2 separate regions of the Homo sapiens genome follow, and region 2 is linked to region 1. The links come from fine-mapping of genetic effects on gene expression. Tissue or cell type: whole blood. Region 1 holds a variant in brackets; the other region holds the start of a gene. All regions are shown on one strand. Distances are from middle to middle.

Region 1 (8,104 bases):
AGGCTGAGGCAGGAGAATCGCTTGAATCTGGAAGGCGGAGGTTGCGGTGAGCTGAGATCACGCCACTGCACTCCAGCTTGGGCAACAAGAGCAGAACTCTGTCTAAAAAAAAAAAAAATATATATATATATATATGTATGTATTCACATATATATAGATAGATAGATAGATATAGGTGTTTACAGAACATAGATTTCTCATCCTAAGGTAATGATGGTTAAACTTGGTGGCCATTTGACTGAGATAGCCCAGCCTACCATTTCTGGGTCTAGGTGGAGCTTCTCCCTCCAGTTCTCTTGTCCAGAGTCAGCCTCTTAGGAGTGTATTCGAGAAGTCATGGCCTTCCTCCCCACTCCCAGTTAGAAATCAGCACGTGAATGGCCTGTCTTCTGAGTATCCTTCAATCTTGCCATCTTCCTTTCTGACTGTCTCTCCATTTCCCCACTCCTACCCTTAAAGGACAGGGGTGCTACTTTTTTTACTCATTCATGAAAATTTACTAACCTTTTCTTTTGTGTGTTTAGCTCCTTTTACTGCCATGTTTTGGTATCCTCCCATGTGCTTGCTTGCTTGCTTCCTCAAAATTTTAACAAGCGCCAACTCTGAGCCAGGCAGTGTTTGAGGGGCTGGAGACACAGTGGGAAACAAAACAGAGACGGCTCCGATTTCCTGGAGCTTACATTTTGATGGGGAAATAGACAGTAGTCAACCAAATAAACACATAACATCACGTGAGTTAGTAATAAGGAAAACAAAGCAGGTAGAGGGGGTGGGGTGGGAGAGTGGGGGACGAATGAAGAGGACTGTTTTAGGTGGAGAAGTCAGAGGAGGCTTCTCCTCTGAGATGACGTTTGTGCAGCAGGCTGAGGAACCCAGGGAGTGAGGCGTGGAGAGATCTGGGGAAAGAGTGTTGCGCAGATGGATGGGCCCAGGCAAAAGCCTGAGATGGGAGTGAGGCTGGTGTGTTCAGGAAACAGCAAGAAAAAGTGGGGAGGCTGAAGATAGTGAGTGCTGAGAGAGGGCGGGAGGTGAGGCTGGAGCAGAGGCAGGAGCCAGGCAGGTTGGGGTTACAGGCCGGGAAAGGGAGTTAGAATAAAATTCAAAGTGTGAGGGGAAGCTGTGCGGAGGTCTGGAGTAGGGGGGAAATCATATCTAATCAGCATTGTACAAAGAACATGGCTGCCGCATAAGCAACTGCTGATGCTGGAGCCGAGGCAGGGCCGTCAAGGCAGTTGAGGGTTCCAGGCCAGGTGAGAGCGAGGGCTCCAGGCTCCAGCGTGGGTGGAGAGGAGCTGGCAGAGCTCCCTTGTTAGCGTGGAAGTGGGTGAAAGCGAGAAATCAGTGCGGAGGGGCCTGGGTGGATTGTGGTTCTAGTCACTGACCTAGGGAGGTCTAGGGGGAAAGCAGGTTTGCAGGGAGAGAAGTGCAGAAGTGAGGAATAACCGTGTTTGGGGCTGATTCCATTGCAATCATTATAATACCGGAGGAGGATTTGTAGGGTGTGATTTTAGAGCAAATGAACTCTTCCCCTCACTGTCCATTTAAACCTGTTCTGTTGGGGTTGGTTCTTCTCCTGCCCTGGGCATTCTCAGATAATAAACAGCCTCTGGTTATGAAGACAGTCTGTTCAGTAACTAATATGGCCAGTCTCGTATAACATAATGACCAAAGCTTCAATCTTCATTTAAGGTCTCCCTCCCCGCGTTTGGGGCTGCTGAAGCTGGAGCTATAAGAAAGAAGAGGGAGGTAGATGTCTTCTCTCTTTCCCTTCTTACTCTCCTATTCCTTACCCCTGTTTCTTGCCACTGTGATTTCTGATATCTTCAGAGTCCACAGTGGGAGGGAGGAAAGAGAAATAATGGGTGGGTAGGAAAGTTCTTACCTATTAATTTTATGATGATCTATTTCAGTGTAAGGCATTCTCTGGGCTTGGCAGGGGTTTGAAGCTAGTGGTTTTTCTCATGGGGCACTTCCAAGTGATCTTCAGAGAAAATTCCTATTGCTTGGAATTTCTCACCGGATTTCTTTTCCAGGTGTTTGCTTAGGACTGTCTCTGGCTCTAAGCATCTGATGGAACTGCCACTACTTCATTCTTCACTTAGGAACATAGCCTCTATCACCTAAAGAGATACTGAGACTAAAATTAGATCCATTTCAGTATCTTTGTAGATGCTCATCCTATACCCAAGAGGAGATATACAGTAGGCAGGTGGATGTACCGGTCTGGAGTTCAGGGGAGACTGGGGGTGGAGACAGGTTTTTGAGAGTCATCCTCATATAGATGCTATGTGAAATCATGCAATCACCTGGGGGTGAGTGTCAAAGAGAAGAAGGCCGAGGGTTAGTCCTGCGGAACGCCAAGATTTAGAGGTTGGGGCAAGGAGGCAGAGCTGGTGAAGGAACATTCATGGAGCGAGAGGTTGGTATGGAAGGAAGCAAAGCAGAAGTATGTGCTGCTGCAGAGGCCCAGTAGAGAAAGGGTTTCAGAAAAGAGGGCATGCCCAGCCATGTGGCAATGCTGCTGAGAGGGAGGTAAAATGAGGACTGGGGAGATATAGGCCTAACTGCTGATTTTCATCAGAGAGGTTAAGTGGAGCAGCTGAAATGAAAGCTGATTAGAGTGGGTTCAGGAGAGAATTGGGGTGAGGAAGTGGAGACAGAATAAGCAATGCTTTTGTGGGGTTTTGCTATAAAGTGGCTGGAGAAGGTAAGGTAAGGGAATATTTTTATCAGCGATATTGATATTATAACATGTATGTTTCCTGATGGGAATGCTCCCATAGAGAGGGAGATTTGATGATGCTGGAGAGAGAGGGGGTATAATAGAAGGGCAGAGTCCTTCCACAGGTGAGGAGGCAGCACCCTGGACTCAGGTGGACAGGACACTCTATCCATTGTATGAAGAGGGAAGGCTGAGTACATGGATATAGGTCAAACTAGCTCAGTGGATTTTGCAAAGGAAGATTGTTTCCTTCTGTTTACTCATTTTCTCAAGTGAGATCATCAGCTGATCGCGAGGCACAGAATAGAGAATTTAGAGGTTTGAAGAGAAAAGGGAAGAAAGGAACCTAGTATTTTCTAAATCACAACAATCCAAGTGGAAATTAGTACTCCAAACATGTTGACATCTGAAAGCTGAGACCACAGGGGTTCCCTCAAATCATGTCACACATCAGTGATCCACCCCATCTATTTGACCATGTCCCTGAATCTCTCAGTGCTTCTGACTCCAGACAGCG[C/T]GAGGAAAGGCTGAGGCAGGAGGCCTAGGTGGAGACCCTGCCTGAGAGATGAGTCACTCGGCTCTGGCAGGACAGGCTTCAGGGGGATCAGCTCAGCTTAGCTGGGGAACGCTTTCTGCTCTCGTAAGCCCCTCATCCCCATACCACACTCAACTCTTCCCTTTTGTCACCTTCAAAAGGTTTCAGCAACCAAGGAGCACACACCCTGATCCTTGATTGGTGAAAGGATACACAAAATCAGGCTGCTTCAGAGGAAGTCATCTGCTCACAGGAATCAGGGTGAAGGCCAAGGACGGCACTCAAGAATTGTCCTGTCTCTAAAAAAAAAGCATCTGCAACGAACTTCCTTTAATTTTTGAGTTCAGTGTCTGTGATAATTAAGAAATGGCAATACCATGTATTTTCCCCAGAAGTTAAGAAATATTGCTGAACGAACCAATAAAAATAATTACAGCTCCCTCACTAAGTGTCCATCTCTGTATATTTGGCTTGTTCCTCAATTAAGGTATGCTCCCTTTGGTCATGCACACTTCATGGCCACATCCACATATCCTCCCCAGGTTTTCCCAACATTCTTTAGAAAATTTAAAAATTCATTTGGGGTTGGCCAGGTGAGGTGGGTCATGCCTGTAATCCCAGCACTTTGGGGAGGCTGAGGCATGTTGCCCAGGCTGATCTCGAACTCCTGGGCTCAAGCGATCCACCCGCCTCGGCCTCCATCTGAACACCTGTCTTGAGGTCAGGAGTTCGAGACCAACCTGGCCAACGTGGCAAAACCCTGTCTCCACTAAAAATACAAAAATTAGCCAGGTGTGATGGCACATACCTGTAATCCCAGCTACTTGGGAGGCTGAGGCATGAGAATTGCTTGAACCCTGGAGGTGGAGGCTGTAGTGAGCCGAGATTGCACCACTGCACTCTAGCCTGGGTGACAGGGCAAGACTCCATCTTAAAAAAAAAAAAATTCATTTAGGGTATAATTACTCACTTGCTGATTCTAAACATTGCCCTCTGGCTCATGTTGAGTTTGAATCTTGGTCACAGGAAGACACAGTAGGACACAGAGCATAGAAGAGTGGAATTCTGTTTTCCTTAGGCAAAGGGACACCATGGTAACCTTTTCAAAAGACTTGGGGGAGTCTGACTTCTTCAGTTCTGTCTGTTCCCCAAATATATATAATTCCAAGATCCCCCTCTTTCCTAGTCAATGCCCTAGATTTCATATAAAAGACTGGCAGCAATGTTAATCCATCTGGAATTGCAATTCAGCAACCTACAGGATCAATTTATGAACTTGAGGGCCACAGATGGAATAAGATTTATTAAAAATAGTGGCCCTATATTTTAATGCCTTGCACATTCTGGCATCTGAGCTTTATATTATCTTGCTTTAAATTATCCATTTTTCTCTCATTCCATATTCCTCATCCTCTTTAAATTATTCTACCCTGACAGTTATCTAGTCTCCCAACATCTCACCCCTAATCAATATATGGTTCTAAGTGAAACTAGATTTTCTTTCTTTCTTTCTTTTTTTTTTTTTTTGAAACAGGGTCTCGTTCTGTTGCCCAGGCTGGAGTGCAGTGGCATGATCATGGCTCACTGCAGGCTGGACCTCCCAGGTTCAAGCAATTCTCCGCCTTTCAGCCTCCCGAGTAGCTACGACTACAGGTGTACGCCATCATGCCTGGCTAATTTTTTGTATTTTTTGTAGAGATGAGGTCTCACCATGTTGCCCAGGCTGATCTTGAACTCCTGGGCTCAAGCGATCCACCCGCCTCAGCCTCCCAAAGTGCTGGGATTACAAGCATGAGCCACTGCACCTGGCTGAAAACTAGATTTTTAAAACTTTATACTATGCACAATTTCAGAGAATTACAGAAAAAATAATTATAATTGTATAATGAATCCTTATGTTTCTGACATCCAGCTTCAATACTGATTACCTCATGTCCAGTCTTGTTTTGTGTATATGCATACCTACTTCTCAACCCTAACTGGATGACTTTGAAGCAAATCCCAGATGTCGTATCACAAATATAGTTGCTCATTCCACATGGTGAAGAGAAGATGCCTTTCCTTTCCCTGCACTTTGACACGAATACCAATTCCAAATATCTCACATTTCCTCTGAAGCCTTGTACTATTTCTGTATTATTTGAGATCATTTGTATTGCAAGTAACAAGCTAACCAGAGCTAACATAAGCACAAATGGTCCCTGGTGGTCTAGTGGTTGGGATTAAAAAAAAAAATTTCATTGAAAGAGTGCCAAAGCATCTTACAGAACCCTGAGAAAAAACTGAATTCCACAGGAATGGCAGGAACCTTGACAGCACTGGCCCCTGAGCAGCAGGCATCTCAGACCCTTCTAGGCTGTTGTCATGAACGTGACTCACAACACCTTTCCAAGTCTCTGTTTTGGTTAGACGTCTATAATCCTAGAAGAAAGACAGGAGAATCTGATCCTAGACTTGGGTCAGGTGTACACTCCTTGACCAATTAGCCACAGAGAAGAACAGGGAGGTGCTGCCATCGAGTCCACCTCTGGCCAGGTGAAGTGGCTCACGCCTGTAATCCCAGCACTTTGGGAGGCCGAGGAGGGTGGATCACCTGAGGTTAGGAGTTTGAGACCAGCCTGACCAAAATGGCAAAAGCCCATCTCTACTAAAAATACAAAAATTAGCTGGGCATGGTAGGGGGGCACCTGCAAGCCTAGCTACTCAGAAAAGCTGAGGCGGGAGAATCGCTTGAACCCAGGACGGGGAGGCTGCAGTAAGCCAAGATTGCGCCACTGCACTCCAGCCTGGGCAATAGAGCAAGAGACGCCATCTCAAAAAAAAAAAAAAAAAGTCTACCTCTGTGAGTGGAGTCAGGGATTTGCCAGAGATGGGACCACGCAGGCATCTCTAATCCACCATGTGGAGCAAGGAGGCCAGGAATCACTGAAGAAAGCTGAGCCCAAAAAGACAGGCAGGAATCTTACAGGTCATGCTAAAGCGTTTGGAATTTATGGGGAGACCCTGAAGGATTTTATAATACTCTAGTTCTTGGCATTTTTTCCCTTTTATATTACTTCATCAGTCAAAACAGACTTCTAGAAATCACATCAGCATTAAAGGGATATTGTTACTTCACCTTGACTTTTTATAGAAGGAGAAAAGTCTCGGTAAATCAGTTCTGTTCCATGAATCAGTCATTACTGCCTTCTCCATAGCCTTTCCTTCGTTCAAGTAAATTTAGAAATTTCTTAAGTTTTCTTTATAACAGGTAGCCTAAATCTATATCATACTTTTAAAATAAAAATCTAGGTGCAAATTTGTTCTTATGGTTAAGGTTAACATGTACACTTCACAAACATTGAGACTTTTGTTTTGTTTTCTGGGACAAGGTCTTGTTCTGTCTCCCAGCTGGAGTGGATACAAGCATGGCTTGCTTCAGCCTCAACCTCCCGGACTCAAGTGATCCTCCCACCTCAGCTTCCTGAGTAGCTGGGACTACAGGTGCCTGCCACCATGCCCAGCTAATTTTTAAACGTTTTGTAGAGACGCGGTCCCATTGTGTTGCCCAGGCTGGTCTTGAACACCTGGCCTCAAGCGATCCTCCTACCTCGGCCTCCCAAAGTGCTGGGATTACATGCATGAGCCACCATGACTGGCCTAGACTTTTTGATTTAAAGAGACTTTTTGGATAGAAATGCTTTTCTCTATTACAGTTATAAATGACTAAAAATACTAGCTATGCCAAAATGGCAACCAGAGGCCGACTGCAAAGCTTCAAAAGGCTTGATGCTCTCCTGGTAGACAAGTCTTCAGTCTCTTAAATGTTTTTTTCATATGTTGACATTGAAATTTCATTTTGTGTAGATGTTGGGATTATGTCTCATTCATTTATTTATTCATCATTCACTTAGTAAGTATTTAAGTGCCTGTTTTTCCCAGGTGCTCTGCCAGGTTCTGGGGATATAAGGATGAGCCAACATAGGCTCTCTGCCCTAAAGTTAGTGGGAGAAACAGTAACAAAAGATTTTAATACTATGAGATTAACTGACTTAGTTGTGGTATGTAGAAAGAGACACAGAGCCTGCAGCAAGAGCCTAGGTGAAGACTCAGTGAAGCACTACCTATTGAAAGGAGAATCTTTCAAATCCTTAACAGTTATTTTCACCATGTAAAAAAGGCGACATTGCCAGGGAACATCAAGTAAAGAGACAAATGCTCAGGTAAGCTTTTAAATCATATGAGATTGAAATAAGTTGATTCAGTAAATCAGGGAAACTTTTATTTTCAAATGAAGTAAGGAAGAAGCTAGGTAGAAATTAAAAATCCTATTTTGTATCACCTTTTGCTTATACTTAATGTAGTTTAAGCCATCAGTATATTATACTTTTCTGTGTATGTCGTCTACTCAACAGGAATTTTCTGTTCGCCTGCTATTTGGGTCAGTCATAGATGGTCCCATGTTATGAGAAAGATGTAAAGATGAGATAGATTCAGCTCCTTTTCTCGAGAAGATTATACCATATAAGGAAGTAATTTGCTGAATGGTCTCTCAGTTAGCCTGACTAGAATCTCTAAATCATGGTCTACACAGCAGTAATGAGGAACTTTGGCCCCTCAAGTGTCAATGAAGGCCAACTGGGGCACCTGGATTCCTATCTCCATCTGGCAGTAATGAGGTGGTAACCTCATTAACCCTGTTAGATTGGTGTTGGAGAAAGCCAGCTAAAACAGAAAGTTTAAATAAGATCCAGAGTCTCATAATATAAACTGAAAATGTTCAGACTTCAATAGAGACCAGCACTGAGATGACAAAGATGTTAGAATAAGCTCACAGACTTTTAAAGTTGCTATGAGAAAACTGCTTC
Region 2 (8,104 bases), 160 kb before region 1:
TGCAGTGAGCCGAGATCATGTGGCTGCACTCCAGCCTGAGCGACAGAGCAAGATTCTGTCTTGAAAAAAAGAAAAAGAAAAAAGTAAAAAATAAAAATTAGAAATTAAAAACTACTAGTAACATTTTGATGTGCATCCTTTCAGATATTTTTTAGTATATCAGCTTTTAGTCTTGTTTTAATTAAAAGGCAGCTGCCTTTGTTATTTAATCCTACTTTATTGAAATCTAATTTGTCTTTTGCATTAAAAATTACATTATGAACTTACCATCACTTTAAATAGAATACTGACTGTTAGGGAAATGACTTTTATTATAATTACATTTTTTGCTGTCCAAAAGAGTTATTGTTTAATTTTTTTTTTTTTTTTGAGATGGAGTTTCACTCTTGTTGCCCAGGCTGGAGTGCAATGGTGCGATCTCAGCTCACTGCAACCTCCACCTCCCAGGTTCAAGCGATTCTCCTGCCTCAGCCTCCCAAGTAGCTGGGATTACAGGAGCCCGCCACCACGCTTGACTAATTTTATGTTTTTTTAGTAGAGACGGGGTTTCGCCATGTTGGTCAGGCTGGTCTTGAACTCCTGACCTCAGGTGATCCACCCACCTCAGCTTCCCAAAGTGCTGGGATTACAGGTGTAAGCCACTGTGCCCAGTCATTTTTTAATTTTTAAAATTGTTTTTACCTGCTGCCTTTCAAACTTAAAATTGCAGTAGTATAAACAACAAAGTACAAGTGTTGAGAATGCAATATTTCCAAACCTTTTAAAAATGCGTATCAGTAGGATGTACTTGAAAGTAGATTGATTATCTAGCTGAACACAGTGGCTCACGCCTGTAATCCCAACACTTAGGGAGGCAGAGGCAGGAATAAAGCTTGAGCCCAAGAGTTCGAGACCAGTCGGAGAAACATAGCAAGATCCTATTCTCCACAGAAAGGAAAAAAAAAAAAAACCCACAAATTGTAAAAGTAGATTATCTAAAGAAACTTTGGCTTTAGTTTATATTTAATTTCCAAGGAATTAAATATTTAGCACATGCATTATCTAATCTATCCTTGTATTTGCAATCAGGGAAACAAAATGTACCCATTTTGTAGATTAAGGAATTAAGACATATAAAATGGAATGACTTGCTCTAAACTGGGTAGTGTATCCTTTAGGATTAGATTTAGCTGTGACAGAAAATCCAGAATAATAGTTGCTTACAAGGTCAAATTTTATTTCCCATGCAAAAGTCCAGAGGGAAGCAGTTCAGGGCTGGTAGATCAACCTCATAAAATCATCAGATTCCTGTACTGTTGATCTGCCAATCTCATCACTCTGTAGACTTGGGGTCTCAGGGTAGCTGCACTAGCACCAGCCGACACATTTGTATTTCAGCCAATAGGAAGAAGCAGATATCTTTCCTTTTAAACAGCTTTATTGAGATGTAATTCACATGCTGTGCAATTCACCCATTTAAAGTATACAATTCAGGCTAGGCCGATGGCTCACTGTAATCCCAGCACTTTGGGAGGCCGAGGTGGATCACCTGAGGATCAGGAGTTCAAGACCAGCCTGGCCAACATGGTGAAAGCACATCTCTACTACAAATACAAAAATTAGCCGGGAGTGGTGGCACATGCCTGTAATCCCAGCTACTCGGGAGGCTGAAACAGGAGAATCACTTGAACCCGGGAGGTGGGGGTTGCAGTGAGCCGAGATCGTGCCCCGGCATTCCAGCCTGGGCAACAAGACTCTGTCTCAAAAAAATAAATAAATAAAAATAAAGTATACAATTCAATGGTTTTTAGTGTATTTATAGGGTTGTGCAACCATCACAATTTAACTTTAGAAAATGTTTGTCCATTCTAAAACCTCACATGCCTTAGCAGTAACTCCCTAGCCCAGTCCCAAGCAACTACAAATGTACATTCTGTCACTCTCTATTTGCCTATTCTAGACATTTGACATAAATGGAATAATACAATTTGTAGTCTTGTGACTGGCTTCTTTTACTTAGCATACTGTCATCAAGGTTCATCTGTGTTGTAGCATGCATTGGTCCTTCATTCCTTTTTCTTGCCCAACAGTAGTCCATTGTATGGATATACCACATTATATTTATTCATTCATAACCTGATGGACATTGGCTTGTGTCCTCTTTGGCATATATATATACACACACACATTATATATATATGTATATATATATGAATGCTGCTAATGAACATTCATGTTCAAGATTTTATGTGAACATGTTTTCATTTCTGTAGGGTGTATACACCTAAGAGTGGAATTGCGGGTCATGTGGTAATTCCACGTTTTACTTTGAGAAACTGCCAAACTTTTCCAAAGGACTGTCACTAGTTTCCATTCCCACTAGCAGTGTATAGGGGTTCTGATTTCTCCACATCCTCCCCAATACTTGTCTCATTTTAATTACAGCCACCCTGTGGATATGAAATGGTGTCTCACTGTAGTTTCGATTTGTATTTCCATGTGCTTACTGTTCATTTGTATATCTTTAGAGAAATATCCAAATTCTTTGCCCATTTTAGAATTGGATTGTCTTTTAATTGTTGAGTTGTGAAAGTTGATTCCAATACAAATCCCTTTTCTCCCATTCTGTGGGTTGTCTTTATACCCACTTGTTGGAATCGTTTACAGCACAAAGGTTTTCATTTTGAAAACTTTTGTAGTTCATCCAGCTTGTGCTTTTGGCGTCCTAAGAAACAATTGCCTGGCCCAATATGATGAAGAGTTGCTTCTGGGTTTTTTGTGTTTGGTTGGTTTTGTTTTTGTTTTTGTTTTTGAGACAGAGTCTCCCTCTGTCACCCAGGCTGGAATGCAGTGGCACGATCTTGGCTCACTGCAATCTCCGCCTCCCGGGTTCAAGCGATTCTCCTGCCTCAGCCTGCCGAGTAGCTGGGATTACAGGCATGAGCCACCGTGCCTGTCCCTTGCTCCTGTTTTTTCATAAGTTTTACATTCTAGGTCTATGATGCATTTTTAGTTAATGTGTACCCCTGTTACTGGTGGAAGGTATCTGAGTCACGTGGCACCAAAATATGTCAGCAGGAGTGAATCTATATGGGTCTGCAGCAACCTCAGTTCCTGCCTCCTCAGAAGAAAGAATTCCACTGAGGGGCATAAGGCAGAAGGAGAGACTGAGGCAAGTTTTAGAGCAGGAATAAAAGTTTATTAAAAAGCTCTACAGCAGAAATGGAAGGAAGGAAAGTACACTTGGAAGAGGGCCAAGCGGGTGACCTGAAAAAGAAGCGCACAGTTTGACCTTTTGACCTGGGGTCTTATGCATTGGCATACTTCTGGGGTCTTGCATCCCTTCTCCCCTGATTCTTCCCTTGGGAGGCCTGCCTGCATGGGCAGTGGTCTGCCAGCACTTGGGAGGGGAGTGTGCACACTGTGTATACTGGAGTTGTACCCATGCTCACTGGAGGCGTTCTTCCCTTACCAGTCCGGTGTCCTTCGAGGGTCACATGTCAGTTAAACTCCGCAATTTGTGTAAGCCCACTTGCCCAGCTCCTGAGATCTTACCGAGAAGCTGATCACCAGTTTCAGGTTTTCTCTATCTATTGGGAGACTGCCTTTCCCTGGCCCCGCTGGATCAATGATCATTTTAGAGGGAGCATAACAACCGCCTGACTGTCGCCTGATGGTTGCCTGACGTACCTGGTTGGAAGCGTGGCCCTCTCCTGCCCTTTTCGAGGCTGACTAGCTACCTGCTGTCACCCCCCTTCCCTTTTAAGGACTTTTCTGGAATGTTGGCCTGTGCCACCTGCTTTTATTCGCTGGCCAGAACTTAGTTACTGGCCATCCCCGTGGTCTGTATAGGAGACTCGACAATGTATATTTCAGGCGTTGGGCATCATGTGTAGCCGGCGGAATGCCTGTTCAGCCATGGTCCAGCCTGAACGAGCGGGCCTCTTGCTTCATTTTGCAGGGGAGCTGCTGCTTGCCCGCGGTCACCCCAGCGGTCTGGCGGAGCCCTTAGCGCGCAGGGCCGCCGTCTGCGGGCGCTCACGCCCCCGGGGATCCACCCCAAGGAGAACGGTCCTGAGGGCCTGCCGGGCCTTTCCCCCCGCGGATTTTGGTTCTTCGCTGTTTCCCTTTGGGGTGCCCTTCGCGGTTTCTGCGTTTCCCCCGCGTTGCCAGCAGCCACTCGCGCCGCGCCCCTAGCCCAGAACCGCCCCTCCCAAGGGCGATAACCCCGAGGGCAACGGCCGCGGGCGGCGCTGCGGTGGCAATGGCGGCGCCCCCTGCACCAGCCGCCAAGGGGTCCCCGCAGCCGGAGCCGCACGCCCCAGAGCCCGGCCCGGGGAGCGCCAAGCGAGGGCGAGAGGTGAGCGGGGCGGCGGGGACCGGGAAGGGGCTGCGTCCTCGGGGAGCTCCAGGGCGTCGCCTCGCAGCCCCTTTTCCAGCTGGGGGCAGCCCGGAGGGGCTCGGCCCAAACCTGCCAGCTCAGGGGCTGCCCTCGCGGGGTTACACGGCTGGGAGCGGGGAGGCTGGTAGGTGCCGGCGCCGGAAAGAGACTAGGACGGGAAGCCTAGCCCTAGCCAAGGAAGTAACTTGGGGATGCGTGGTCATTGCTGTCCTGATTCCCGGCTTAGGGGTCTTGTCCGTGCCACCGCAGGTCCTCCCGGGGTCCCCGAGCTCTGGGCAGGCAGGGCTTTCTGAAGCGCCTGGGGAGGCTGCGTCCTTCCCGACCTCAGGCAGCTGCTGTGGCCTCGGCCTCCCTCCCAGACCCTGGCCTCGCCCAGGCACCAGGCTCCCCTTGGAGGCAGCCTCAGGGAAGGTCCTGGCCATGGGCTCCGACAAGAAGGGAGGAGGGCAGGTGGGAGCGGCGGGGTCTTCGGGGCCCCTTGTCCCTTGCCCGATGCCGCCGGGCCGTGCTGGCCAGTGGGGCTGTGCTGGACGGAGCAAGGGGCCTGGGGCTTCCTGGGCCTCACTGAACGCGCCTGCTCCCTGCTCGTGCCCAGGGCATTCTGTGGCCTCCCCTGACCACCTCAGCCCCCAGCCTGTTCAGGGCTTCCTACGAGGCACCTGGGAGCACAGGATTGCATCCCACAAGAAAGTGAGGTGAGATGAAGGGGCTCTCCGGGGACTCTCACTTCCCAGGGAAACTTAGAAATTCAGGGTGAGATTAACAGCAAGAGGGAAACACTCGCATTGCTGATGAAGTTCCGGCGTGGAATCCTCTTACGACTCTCCGAGGGGTGGCAGCCCCGGTCACTCCAAGGAGACCGAGGTGCCCTGCCCTGGGTCACGCAGCTAGAGATAGCAGGGCTGCGCCCCTCGCCCGGAGCCGCCCCTCCCAAGGGGCTTCTCCTTGTACAGCTCACTGTACAGCTGTACCGGGCTTTTATGACTTTCGGTAAAACTGTCATCCTCAAGACGGCAAGATGGGATCATATCCCTGGCTTCACTTGGAAGTTCTTTCTAAAGTTCTAAAAACTTGCTAGGCCTGTTTTGGGGGATACAAGAGTCCCCATTAGGGGGAGAGGGGGACTGTCACGTTGAATTCTGCCTGTTCTTAAAGTTTTCTGGAAGCTGAAATGATGTTCACACAAATGTCAGAAAAGAATCATCCTGCCCCCAGTGTGGTTTTCCCCTGTGGGTAGGAAGAGTGTGCAAAGTGTGATAAACCCTTATCTGGGGAGACCTTCCCTTCACAAGAGCCTGCTGGGGTGTCCTGCAAGATGTGGAAATGGGTGAAGCCATGTCATCTCCACTCCCTCCAGCCCCCAGCAAACGATGAGAAAAGAGCCCAGCTTCTTCCAAAGAAACAGCACTTTACACAGGGTCTTCATGGCCATTTATTGCTTCAACGGATATATACTAAGCACCTACTGTATACCAAGCTTTGTTCTAGGTACTGGAAACACCATGATAAATAAAAGGTGGAGTTCATGCTCTCAGAGAGCTTACATTCCTGTAGGGAGAGGCAGGAACTAAATGAAAATATAGCAGGCGGTAAGTACAACTGAGAGAGGTGAGAGGTTAGGGAATGCCTCTTGGAGGAGGTGACATTTAAGCTGGTGACATCAAACCAGAATGACAAGGAGTCACCTTCCAGGCAGAGGAATGGGAAGGGCAAAGGCCCTGAGGCAGCAACAGACTTGATGATTTTGAGGAATAGGAAGGAGCCCGGCGTGGCTGAAGGAGAGCTATTTGAGGTGAGGTGGGTAGGGGGCCGACTGGGTGGACTCCTTAGCCATGATCAGGACTTGGAGTTTTATTCAAACTGCAATGGTATTGACTGAATACCATGGATCTGGAAACAAACAAACAAACAAACAAAACACACACACACACACACACACACACACAAAAACAGACAAAAAAACCCTGCAATAGCAAGCCATTGGAGAGTTTTAATCAGAGAGGAGATGGGATCTGATTATTTATTTATTTATTTATGACTGAGTCTCTGTCACCCAGGCTGGAGTGCAGTGGTGTGATATTTGCTCACTGCAACCTCTGCCTCCCTGGTTCAAGCAATTCTCTTGCCTCAGCCTCCTGAGTAGCTGGGATTACAGGCGGCCACTATGCCTGGCTAATTTTTGTGTTTCTAGTAGAGATGGGGTTTTGCCATGTTGGGCAGGCTGGTCTTCAACTCCTGGGCTCAAGCAATCCACCTACCTCGGCCTCCCAAAGTGCTGGGTTTATAGGGATGAGCCACTGTGCGATTTATGTTATTACAAGAGCACTGGCTGCTGGGTGGAGTGGATTGTAGGGAGCAAGGGCAGACACAGAAGCCACTTAGGAGGCATTCACTGATAGACAAGAACTGGAAAGAAGAATAGATGACTCCTAAGTTTGTGGCCTGAGCCACTGAGGGGACCAGCGGTGCCATTTGCTAGGAGCTGGATTAGACAATGGAATGGCCATCAGGAGCTGTATGTAGACCATGCTAAGCTGAGACGCCTGCCAGGCATCCCTGGAGGGCTGTGGGTAGGCAGGCTATGGGTAAATGAGCTATCGCCTCATTTACTCATCGAAGAAACAACTTTGTGAAGTTGGCAGGGATGTTGCATTTGACAGATGAGGAAAACAGGCTTAGAGAGATGATGTGATTTATTCAAGGTCACATAGAGGGGTAGGTGACAAAGGCAGGCTCAAGCCCAGGTCTCCTGACCTGCAGCTTACACGGCCGTGCTGACTCAGTAAATGATGGCGGCTTCAGCAGGAAGCCCAGGGTAAGATGTCCAGAAGAACTTCCCCCCTGGAAATGTTTAGAGGTCAGGGTTTAGGATCTTTTTTCTCTTCGTCTCACTTCCTCTTAGGATGACATGGGGGCAAAATGGGGCTGAGAGGTTGCTGGAAAAGCCCTGAAGACATCACAGAGACTCAGGATGTTTACTGAAGTCATGGGGTGTGGGGACCTGTTTTGTGTCTGTTGGGAGAAGGGCTTAGTTCCTGTGTCTCCTCCAGGACAGCAGAGCCGGTCGCCTCTCATTCTGTACAAAGGTGTGCTATGGCATTGGTGGGGTCCCCAACCAGATAGCCTCCAGCGCCACAGCCTTTTACCTGCAGCTTTTCCTGCTTGATATAGCACAGGTAAGTGTGGGCAGTAGCCCAGTCTCTGCTGGCATCTTCCTTGGGGTCTGGTCCTTCCACCCCCACCTCTGCTTCTGCTCCCACTATCCTTGTAGACAGCACTTCTGACACGAGCTCAACAAAAAGCCAGAAGCCAATGAGGGCAAGGTACTCAAGAATGTTTACTGCAGCCTGTTTGTAGTGGGAAAATGAGAAACAATGTAGATCCCCGACAATATAGAAGCAGTTGGCTAAGTAAGCTGTATCATAGCCACATAATAGACCAAGCCTGTCCAACCCGCGGCGGGACGGCTTTGAATGCGGCCCCACACAAATTTGTAAACTTTCTTAAAACAGTATGAATTTTTTTGTTTTTTTTTTTTTTTAGCTCATTAGCTATCATTAGTGTTAGTGTATTTTATGTGTTTATATGTGGCCCAAGACGATTCTTTTTTTTTTTTTTTTTTTGAGACAGAGTCTCACTCTGTTGCCCAGGCTGGAGTGCAGTGGTGTGATCTTGGGGCTCACTGCAACCTCTGCCTCCCAGGTTCAAGCGATTCTCATGCCT

What was found. PIP is the estimated chance that this variant, and not a neighbour inherited with it, causes the effect.
Region 2: MFSD2B starts here. The variant in region 1 is fine-mapped to the expression of MFSD2B in whole blood (INTERVAL, PIP above 0.99).

The regions. Positions count from the first base shown.
Region 1 is chr2:24,165,938-24,174,041 of GRCh38, forward strand. FAM228B (family with sequence similarity 228 member B) reads left to right here. Exons shown (of 11, transcript NM_001145710.2): 10 at 1,690-1,746; 11 at 3,419-3,701. The coding sequence ends at 1,732. It overlaps LOC105374328 (a long non-coding RNA gene), which reads right to left. Exons shown (of 4, transcript XR_939833.4): 2 at 1,883-2,120; 3 at 505-626; 4 at 63-102. Among named protein-coding and RNA genes, the nearest start is that of FAM228A, 5.1 kb to the right of the region's middle. The variant C/T (reference allele first, on the strand shown) is at 3,240.
Region 2 is chr2:24,005,854-24,013,957 of GRCh38, forward strand. MFSD2B (MFSD2 lysolipid transporter B, sphingolipid) reads left to right here and starts at 4,232. Exons shown (of 14, transcript NM_001346880.2): 1 at 4,232-4,339; 2 at 7,432-7,557. The coding sequence starts at 4,244.